3 linked regions of the Homo sapiens genome follow. The protein of the gene in region 1 interacts with the protein of each later gene in a pairwise test. Each region holds a gene or a part of one and is shown on either strand. Other genes may lie near its edges. The genes, in order: TMEM52B, SEC22A and ZDHHC15.

Region 1 (3,755 bases):
TTCCTGTCTCTTATTTTATTTTCTCTAGGAAATAACATCTAAAGCAGGTCAAGTGGGTATTCTGCTCCTGTTGTATGAATGGGAACGTTAAGGACTGGAGGAATTACATAATAATTTAGTGGAAGGCCACCTAAAGCCCTGCTCTCCTTGTCCTATAAAATACCTTCCACCTTGCCAAGTCTTCTACTGAAATCTGGAAATCACCCTTCATCCTAACCCCAGTTGCCTAATTTAAAAAAATAAAAAATAAAAGACTGTCAGTGCTCATTTCGTCTTGAAACTGACAGATTTTAAATCACCAGTATGGTACCAGGCCATTTTCTCATTATTTGTTTTCCTTAGCTGAGAACAAAACCAGTTTATATCCTGCATTCTCATATCCCATCATCAAGCTATGTGTGAGGACCCTTAGAGTATGATCAGCTCACCCAAGAGTCTCCCTTCCACAATCACTCAGCATAATTAGATTTACTGAGCTAGAAAGGTCCTGAAAGGAGGTTTTATTCAATTCTTATGAGATAGATATATCACTGTAAACTAACTTCTACTTTTCTTATCCCAGCCTGGCCAATATGGTAAAACCTTGTCTCTACTGAAAATAGAAAAGTTAGCTGGGTGTCGTGGCAGGTGTCTATAATCCCAGCTACTCAGGAGGCTGAGGCAGGAGAATTGCTTGAACCCAGGAGGCAGAGGTTGCAGTGAGCCGAGATTGCACCACTGCCCTCCAGCCTGGTGACAGAGAGACTCTGTCTCAAATAATAATAATAATAATAATAATAATAATAATAATAATAATAATAATTTTTTTATTAAACATTTGGTATTAAGTAAAAGATCACCTACTTAAGTATAAATCATTCATACAGCATTCTTTTGTTTCTTTTAATATTTTGCTTTTTTGAGGCAGATTCTCGCTCTATCACCCAGGCTGGAGTGCAGTGGTGTGATCTCGGCTCACTGCAACTTCTGCCTTCCGGGTTCAAGTGGCCCTCCTGCTTCAGCCTCCCAAGTAGTTGGGATTACAGGTGCCTGCCATGACACACAGCTAATTTTTGTATGTTTCGTAGAGAAAGGGTTTCATCATGTTCTCCAGGCTGGTCTCAAACTCCTGGCCGAAGTTATCAGCCCGCCTTGGCCTCCCAAAGTGCTGGGATTACAGGCATGAGCCATGGCACCCGGCCACATTTGTGTCTATAGCTTTGTTTCATTGTAAGTATTCTAGGCCAGGCACGGTGGCTCACGCCTGTAATCCCAGCACTTTGGGAGGCCGAGTCGGGCGGATCATGAGGTCAGGAGATCGAGACCATTCTGGTTAACATGGTGAAACCCCGTCTCGTCTCTACTAAAAATACAAAAAAACTTAGCCGGGCGTGGTGGTGGGCGCCAGTATTCCCAGCTACTCGGGAGGCTGAGGCAGGAGAATGGCATGAACCCAGGAGGCAGAGTTTGCAGTGAGCCGAGATTGCGCCACTGCACTCCAGCCTGGGTGACAGAGCAAGACTCCGTCTCAAAAAAAAAAAAAAAAAAAGTATTCTATGCTTTTGCATGTGTGCTTGTTTTTACTCTAACCTTAGGTTTTATTTTCCTGAGTGACAAGACTTATTTCTCAATCACATCACTCCTTAACCAAAGAGAGAGAGAGAGAGAGAAAGAGAGAGAAAGAAGGAACAAAGAAAAGGCAAGAAAGAAAGAAACCTATACATTTGCTTTTTTAAAATTTGGTTTTAAAAAAATGTCTTTCTCAGTTATCTATTTCAATGGGAAGTGAAGTCAGGGAGGAGGAAGATGTCACTGATAACACCTGAAAATTCTAATCTTCCGACTTGATTTCTCATCTTCAAGTCTGTTTTCTCCAAAGATGAGATGGCTTTCCTGTTCACTTGGCAACCTCTCAGTCTTACCCCAATGCTTAGGGATATAAATGACCCAGAACCAGGAGAGTTGATTATCAACATAGTGAAGGGGAGGGTTTCAAAGAGCAAGAAGGGGTTGTTAGTCACACGGAGAGAGAAGAAAGGAGATTAGCAGGGTGACTTTCACCCTGCAACAGTCACGCTGGAGTACTCTGGTGAAGGATCAAGAATATTACCAGTTTTCTGATGAAGAAAGGAATATATTTGGTCACCAGCAATCTGCCTTTGACCATCCTCAAAGCCAAGTTTTTCATCGCTGTCTAGAAAAATACTTCATTCAGAGGACACATATGTCCTCTTTGAATGTCTCCTTTTTGGGAGCAGTAGGAGAAAGAAACTTCAAGATGTAGAAAGAATTAATAGTGTAACGGAAAGAAAGAAGGCAAAAGGAAGTAAATGTGGAGGCCATAGAAATAGTAATAAGAATAAAGAAGAAAAACAGGAAAGAAGAGGGAAAAGCCATAGAAAATAACAGCCAGAGCGAGTAGGAGGAGACAGAGAGAACGAGAGAGAGAAAAGCTGATAAATTCCTGAGAAAAGTTTCTCTTCTTAAGAATTCTAGGTCAAGAAGTAAAATATGGCACAGAGCATTGAAAGGAGGCAACGGATGCCCAGTGCAAGATTCTGAAGAAGCAGGAATTCAGCCCGATGGGAGTCCGAGTTCATGTCGTGGCGGCCTCAGCCCTGCTGTATTTCATCCTGGTGAGTTCAGTGGTGAAAAGGCAGAAAGAGTATTTTTCCCCAGATTAATCAACTCTCAGAAGAGTCTGAAAGGAAATGAACTGCGGGGTGGGGAGACATATACAGAACCCAGGGGGTCATAGGGAAATGAATAAACTACAAAGTTTCCTTAGTATTACGAGATTGCATAGATGCATGTGTGACTGATGGCAATGACAATGAAAAGGGGGACAGAAATTAGAGTGAGCATGGAAACGAGCAGGATTGCCGTGGCACTTTAGAAGTGCCGCTGAAGTATTTTATCTCTTTTAGCATCTTATCACCCATCCCTCAAAATTCCAAACAAATTATGAAAACTAGGTGTGTAATTCCCCTAAACGGAATTTCCCATCCAGGAATTTCTAATCCTGTTCTAGCAGTTTAGGTGCCTCTAGTCTAGAAATAAGAGAGGCAGGGCTCTTTTAAAATATTTTGGGCCCCACAATGAATCAGAAGTCTCTGAGTAATCCATTAGTGGAGAAAAGGGTCACTGGACTGAGGGATTCTAAACAATTGTCACAGGGAAGTTTATAGAGCTATGCCATCTAGCAAGAAGGAGAGCAAATGAAGAAAACTGGATAGTCTCAGATTCCCGTATGGCCCCCGTACAGAGTGGGCTGTATGGTTTGTTTTTTTTTTTTTTTTGCTAATAGAACAGTTAAAGTGGTATCTGAAAATCCATTTTTTCTTATATTTTCTTTTTGCTTCCTCTTCACTCCCTTTGCCTTGTCTTCCCTTCATTTTTCCTTTCTTTTCTCTTTGCAACAAGCCTGAAAAGTAGCATTTTCTCTGCTGAGCACTTTAGGCTTCTCTTACCTTTAGTGAAGAAAGTGAAAGAAAGTACCATGGTTGCGTAGAGGAAACACACGCTTTTTCATCGTTAGTGGCCATTTCTTTCCAATGAAAACACAAACACGGGTTTCTCAAATGTTACCTGCAAAGGCTGGCCATTAATCCTTTTACAGATCCTTTCCAACTGATAGGTCTTGAGAATGTGTGTCTCCTTACCCCTTCACTACCCGCCATAAACTCCCAATAGTTACAAATCTGTTTCTTTTCTAGGGCCTTTGTGGTTGCTTTCCTGAAATATCAGATCACTCAGGTTATTAGAAGACAGAAGCA
Region 2 (3,755 bases), on another chromosome or scaffold:
AAACATTTATCTATGGCCCCGATAAGCTAAAAACTCCTAAATCTTCCCATGCAATTGTTGTAATCTCTTGCTTTCCACAGTTCCACTGGTTCTTCCTTGGGATTTTCCCAACCACAACCCTCCTTAAGACCTTAAAGATACTTTAACCTAGCTTAGGCCTGACATGGACAGATTTCCTTTTCTGCTAGCACAGTCCAGATAAGATTAGTTTAAAAAAAAACAAACTATATTATGAATCCGTGGTAAAAAGAAAAAAAGTAGGGGTATGTTTATTGAATTGATGGAGAGACAGCTTAGCCTAAGGTGGTTGGAATCTGTCTACAAATTAGTTAAGCCTGACGTTGATCATTGGACATTCATCCCCGTTTGTCAGGCTTAAATTCAAGTGCTTTGGATGCTGAATCAAATTACTGTGGTAGAAAGAGGTTTAATTTTTTCCCTAAGAAAAATCTTATCTATGGATAAGTAGAAACCATTCTCTGACAACCTTGTAATAATTTTGACAGGGAATGTAACTACTGTGTTCTGCTTTTGGTTAAAGGCTAAAGTACATATTAGGAAAATTTGAGGCTGGGCGCAGTGGCTCACACCTGTAATCCCAGCACTTTGTGAGGCCGACGCAGGTGGATCACTTGAGGTCAGAATTTGAGACCAGCCTGGCCAACACAGTTAAGCCCCATCTCTACTAAAAATACAAAAATTAGCCAGGCATGGTGGCGGGCACCTGTAATCCCAGCTACTTGGCAGGATGAGGCAGGGGAATCGCTTGAACCTGGGAGGCAGAGGTTGCAGTGAGCCATTGCACTCCAGCCTGGGCAACAGAGTGAGACCCTGTTTCAAAACAAAACAAAACAAAACAAAAAAACAACAAAAAAAGGAGTATTTGAAATGTAAGTTTGTCCAACTTTAGTTTTCCAGTTAGTGAAGTGGTGGGCAACACACCTGCATTGTTTGCTCTTTTCAACTGAGTTTCTCTAATTGAGGAGTGATGTTTCTTGATGGTAGGACTCTTCATTCCTGCTATCTGGCATAATTCATGGGACACATTAGATATTCAGTAAATGTTTGGTAAACGAATGGAACTTACAAATTGTATTCTTTTTACAGTATGTGTTTTAGAAAGCATGGATCATATATTTATTGATCTGTCCTCCAAGTCACTAAAGAATAACTTTGAAGACTACATGAAATTTGGCAACCTATTAATGAAGTCTATTCATAATATTTCTATTAGGATCCTAGAGAGGCCAGACATAAAATAATACAGTCTACTTTTATTTTACTTTTTGAGACAGGATCTCTCTCATCACCCAGGTTGGACTGCAGTGGCACAATCATAGCTCACCATTGCCTTGAACTCCTGGGCCTGCTTCAGCCTCCCCAAAGCAAGTACTATAGGCGTGTGCCACCATGCCCAGCTGATTTTTAATTTTTTTTATAGAGACAGAGCCTCACCATGTTTCTAGGTTGGTCTTGAACTCCTGGCCTCAAGCAGTGTTGGGATTATGGGTATAAGCCATGGCACCCCATCCAATCTGCTTTTAAATACTAAAATGTGGGTATTTAGAACTGCAAGTTACAACTCACCCTCAAATTAATTCCCAGAATGGTTATTGTGTTGCAGTGTACTTCTGGAAAGACAACAGTTTTATAGTTAAATAATAAACGCTTAAGGGGATAGAGTAAGACATTTTCCTACTTTCTTACACTTAGGCTAAATGTTACAATTGTGATTTAATAATTAAGTAAAACATGGTAAAAAAAAAATTAAAGAGGGGTTTATAGTATAGATATCTCTTCAGGGATCCCAACTTTTTCATGCTACTGCTTTTAGGAGAGAAAAAAACTAGATGAATGGAAAAAAACACCAATTGGGATATGTCACACTGGGACTTCAGTTTGAAGACTCCACTGTAGTAAAAAGACTAATTTGCTTCTGGATATTTTTCTCTTTAAATGAATGGAGAGGCTGGGCGTGGTAGCTCATGCCTGTAATCCTAGTACTTTGGGAGGCTGAGGTGGACAGATCACTTCAGGCCAGGAGTTTGAGACCAGCCTGGCCAACATGGCGAAACCTCATCTCTACTGAAAATACAAAAATGAGCTGGGTGTTGTGGCGCATGCCTGTAATCCTAGCTACTCGCGAGGCTGAGGCATGAGAATTGCTTGAATCTGGGAGGTGGAGGTTGCAGTGAACTGAGATCGCACCACTACACTCGTCTGGGTGACACAGTGAGACCCTGTCTCTGAAGGAGAAAAATATTAAAGGGTAATGACACAGTAACACCTAGAGATTTCTCCTTTTTCCTCATGAAAAGAGGAAAAAGGGATAGTGAACTTAATGCATTAGATTTATTAGTTGGGTTAATTTTTATTGTCAGATCAGTTATCACCATGAATGGGAAGTCATATTTTGACTTCACACAGCAGTGAAAACTATCAGCTCCTGATTTACAAGCTTTGTAACAACTGGTTTTCTGTGGTATTTTTTTTTATATATATTACTCATTTTTTCCTTTTTGGAATGAGATAATATTGACCTAGATTAAGTGGGCAGGTAAGGATTAATTTAGTCTCTAAGATACAATATTTTTGGAAAAATGCCTGTGAGATTTTTATCAGATTTTTGAATTTTCACCAGTTGCCTCACCACTAGTGAGGAAGCCTTTAGTGACATTGTGCTTTGATGGCCTGACAGAGAAGAGTTATCACTTAATCTTAGATAGTGAACATGTTTTAATTTAATGTTTTAAAAAGTATGGGCCTTAGACAATAAGCAAATTGTCAAGCCCTATCCCACAGTCAGTGGTTCAGAATTTTGAGGGCAGAGCTCAGAAATCTGCATTTTTAACTAAACTTTCAACTTCTTATGCAAGCTAAAGTTTGAGAGCCACTGTGTATTTTATGAAAGGTTGAGTGACTGTTGACCTGAGTTCCTTCAGACTCAGGCCTGTGAAGTCCTTTCATCTGTTTTTGTAAAGCAAGAAGAGAATCCAATAAAATAGGCCATTAAGATTTACTTTCTGGTAAAAAGATTGAGAACAACATTAAAACCAATATTCCTTTAGCTTTAGGATTTATTTTAAATAATTTTTTTCTGATTATAAAAGTAGTATATGTCTACTGTGAATATTGAGAACATTTAGGAAATTATAAAATAATAATAACCAATAATACCATTTCTTAGAGGTGAGCATATTCTTAATTTGGCATCTTTTTCTGCATCCGTTTTTCAATCCCTTTTTCCTTCTCTTTATCTTCGTCTCTTTATCCTTATGTTTGTGTAAAACAACATTTGCAATTTTTATCCTACTTTTTTCTCCTTAACATGTAAGCATTTTACCACATTATTAAACTTTCTCCACAAACATAACTTTTAGTTGCTGCATTATATTCTGTTATATGAATATACTATAATTTACTTAACCATCACCATTTTATAGGATATTTAGATTGCTTTCAGTTATTTGAGTGGAAGAATGTCTTTCTGTTTAAAATTTTGCCTGGATTTCTGATTATTTTTCTCAAGACAGGTATATATTTAAATTTATTGAGGTTAAAAGGTATGCCTTCAGACTCTTGTTGAAATTGCCAAATCATTTTGAGAACTGTTTGTACCAGTTTTTACTTCCATCTGTACTTATGAGAATGCCAGACAGAAGTATTATTTTTTAAAAAGCTAATGTGGCTGGGTGTGGTGGCTCATGCCTGTAATCCCAGCACTGTGGCAGGCGCCTATAGTCCCAGCCACATCC
Region 3 (3,755 bases), on another chromosome or scaffold:
CCTAAGGTCACAGAGCTAGTAAATGGCCAAACTTAAAACCCAGGCAGTATGTTGCCACAGTCTCCTCTAAACTAATGCAGAGGTAAAAACTTTGTGACATACAAGCCAGATGTAGCCTTCAGATATATTTTGCCTGGCCTGCACAGTGTTTTCTTAACATTTTGCATCAGTTCCCATTATTTAAAAGTCAGGAGAATAAGGCAGCTTTGACTTTCAACTCTGGCTGAACCAGTCCCTCCTGCCATCATCAGTTTAACAATCTTGTAACAAATTAGCAACCTGGGTTTTGGAAAGGTTAAATCAAATTTTCCTAAGGCCACACATTTAGTAATAGTGAAGAGTTGGAAATCCAGGCTGCCTGATACCAAGGCCATACCTTTTCCAACACAAATAAATTAACAAATTTGCATTTCAATATGTCTCAAAAAGTAACATTAAGGACCTAACTTCTTTCCAGGGATAAAACCTGATGTCTTTCTCCCTAACGTTACATTAGAGCTGAAACCAAAAGAGATGTTTTTGTCCTTTAATTCTTAGAGTTTGAATTCTGCCATTTACTAGCCTGGAGACCTGGGGCAAGTAACTTCACTCTCTCAACCTCAGTTGTCTCACATGTACCTTGCTTCTACAGTTGTTCATCCATATGACAAATGGTTGCTTAGCACTCAGTATATGCCAGGTATTACTGCTGTGAGGCTCAAATAACATGATGCCTGAAAAGCATGCATCACAGTTCACAACACATTATAAGAGCTCATTAGATAGTAACTTGTGATTAGTAAAGAAATAAAGGATTCTTCCTGACCCAGGAAAATAAGAAGCTTAGCTTTTTAGAGAGGAGGGAAAGTAACAGTATCCATTTTATTGGGGTGAAATTTATATAACATAAAATTAACCATTTTTAAGTGTTCGCCTCAGTGCCATTTAGCACTCACAATGTTGTGCAGCCATCACCTCTATGTAGTTCCAAAATGTTTTTGTTATCCCATAAAGAAACCTCATAAGCATTAAGCAGTCACTCCCTGTTCCCTCTTCCCCCAAGTCCTAGCCAATTATTAATCTGCATTCTGTCTCTATGGATTTACCTATTATGGATGTTCCATATAAATAGAATCATAAAATATGTGTTCTTTTGTGTCTGACTTCTTCCAATTAACAAAATGTTTTTGAAATTGGTCCACATTATATTATGTAACAGTAATTTATCCCTTTTAATGGCTGAATAATAGTCTATTGTGTGTGTGTGTGTGTGTGTGTGTGTGTGTGTGTGTGTGTATATATATATATATATATATATATATATATATATATACCAGTTTGTTATCCATTCATCCATTAATGGCCATTTGGGCTATTTCTACCTTTTGTCTCTTCTGAATAGTGCTGTTACAAACATTCATGTATTTGTTTGAATATCTGTCTTCAATTATTTTGAGTATATACACCAGGGAGATGGATGGGGATAATTGGACTGTATGGTAATTCTATGTTTAACTTTCTGAGGAACCTCCAAACTATCTTCCGCAGTGACTGCACCATTTTACATTCCCATCAAGCAGCACAGAAGGGTTCCAATTTGTCCACATTCTCACCAAGACTTGTTATTTTCAGTTTTATTTTTATTATAGCCATCTTACTGGGTGTGAAGGGGTATCTCATTATGGATTTGATTTGTATTTCCATAATGAAAAAAATATTGAGTATCTTTTTATGTACTTGTTTGCCATCCATATATCTTCTTTGGGAAAATGTCTATTCAAGCCATTGTCCATTTTTTAAATGGGATTTTTAAATTGGGTTGTCTTTTTGTTGTTGAATTTTAATATTTTTTGCATGTTCTGAATACTTGATCTTTATCAGATACGTTATTTGCAAACATTTTCCCCCATACTTGATAGTATCATTTTATACACAAAGATTTTTAATTTTAATAAAATTCAATTTATCTATTTTTTCTTTTGTTGCCTATGCTTTTGGTGTCATATTTAAGAATCCATTACCAAATGCAAGAGCATAAAGATTTACCCCTGTGGGATTTTTTTGTTTGGTTGGTTGGTTGGTTGGTTTTGGTTTTTTGTTTGTTTGTTTGTTTTTTGTTTTTTTTTGTTTTTGTTTTTGATACGGGACCTCACTATGTTGCCCAGGCTGATCTCAAACTCCTGGGCTCAAGTGATCCTCCCACCTTAGCCTCTCAAATAGCTGGGGCTACAGGCGTGTGCCCTGTGTTTTCTTATAATAATTTTATACTTTTAGCTCTCACCTTTAGGTATTTTAGCCATTCTGAGTTAATTTTTTATATCTGGCATAAGATACGAGTCCAGCTTTTTTTTAAAATTTTATTATTATTATACTTTAAGTTTTAGGGTACGTGTGCACAACATGCAGGTTTGTTACATATGTATACATGTGCCATGTTGGTGTGCTGCACCCATTAACTCCTCATTTAACCTTAGGTATTTCTCCTAATGCTATCCCTCCCCCCTCCCCCCACCCCACGACAGGCCCCCGTGTGTGATGTTCCCCACCATGTGTCCAAGTGTTCTCATTGTTCAATTCGCACCTATGACTGAGAACATGCAGTGTTTGGTTTTCTGTCCTTGCGATAGTTTGCTGAGAATGATGGTTTCCAGCTTCATCCATGTCCCTACAAAGGACATGAACTCATCCTTTTTTATGGATGCATAGTATTCCATGGTGTATATGTGCCACATTTTCTTAATCCAGTCTATCATTGATGGGCATTTGGGTTGGTTCCAAGTCTTTGCTATTGTGAATAGTGCCGCAATAAACATACTTGTGCATGTGTCTTTATAGTAACATGATTTATAATCCTTTGGGTATATTCCCAGTAATGGGATCTCTGGGTCAATTAGTATTTCTAGTTCTAGATCCTTGAGGAATCACCACACTGTCTGCCACAATGGTTGAACTAGTTTACACTCCCACCAACAGTATAAAAGTGTTCCTATTTCTCCACATCTTCTCCAGCACCTGTTGTTTCCTGACTTTTTAATGATCGCCATTCTAACTGGTGTGAGATGGTATCTCATTGTGGTTTTGATTTGCATTTCTCTGATGGCCAGTGATGATGAGCATTTTTTCATGTATCTTTTGGCTGCATAAATGTCTTCTTTTGAGAAATGTCTGTTCATATCCTTTGCCCACTTTTTGATGGAGTTGTTTGATTTTTTCTTGTAAATTTGTTTGAGTTCTTTGTAGATTCTGGATATTAGCCCTTTGTCAGATGTGTAGATTGTAAAAATTTTCTCCCATTCTGTAGGTTGCCTGTTCACTCTGATGGTAGTTTCTTTTGCTGTGCAGAAGCTCTTTAGTTTAATTAGATCCCATTTGTCTATTTTGGCTTTTCTTGCCATTACTTTTGGTGTTTTAGTCATGAGGTCCTTGCCCATGCCTATGTCCTGAATCGTATTGCCTGGGTTTTCTTGTAGGGTTTTTAAGGTTTTAGGTCTAACATTTAAGTCTTTAATCCATCTTGAATTAATTTTTGTATAAGGTGTAAGGAAGGGATCCAGTTTCAGCTTTCTACATCTGGCTAGCCAGTTTTCCCAGCACCATTTATTAAATAGGGAATCCTTTCCCCATTTCTTGTTTTTGTCAGGTTTGACAAAGAGCAGATGGTTATAGATATGTGGTATTATTTCTGAGGGCTCTGTTCTGTTCCATTGGTCTATATATCTTTTTTGGTACCAGTACTATACTGTTTTGGTTACTGTAGCCTTGTAGTATAGTTTGAA

The links.
Region 2: the proteins of TMEM52B (region 1) and SEC22A interact in binary tests that used the Homo sapiens proteins (3 or more experiments, as listed by UniProt).
Region 3: the proteins of TMEM52B (region 1) and ZDHHC15 interact in binary tests that used the Homo sapiens proteins (3 or more experiments, as listed by UniProt).

The regions. Positions count from the first base shown.
Region 1 is NC_000012.12:10,177,014-10,180,768, forward strand, and holds the start of TMEM52B (transmembrane protein 52B isoform 2 precursor), read left to right. Parts: upstream 1-2,018; 5' UTR 2,019-2,561; coding exon 2,562-2,615; intron 2,616-3,755.
Region 2 is NC_000003.12:123,204,839-123,208,593, forward strand, and holds part of SEC22A (vesicle-trafficking protein SEC22a), read left to right. Parts: intron 1-1,462; exon of another isoform or gene 1,463-2,269; intron 2,270-3,755. UniProt on the Homo sapiens protein: May be involved in vesicle transport between the ER and the Golgi complex.
Region 3 is NC_000023.11:75,516,327-75,520,081, reverse strand, and holds part of ZDHHC15 (palmitoyltransferase ZDHHC15), read left to right. Parts: intron 1-3,755. UniProt on the Homo sapiens protein: Palmitoyltransferase that catalyzes the addition of palmitate onto various protein substrates.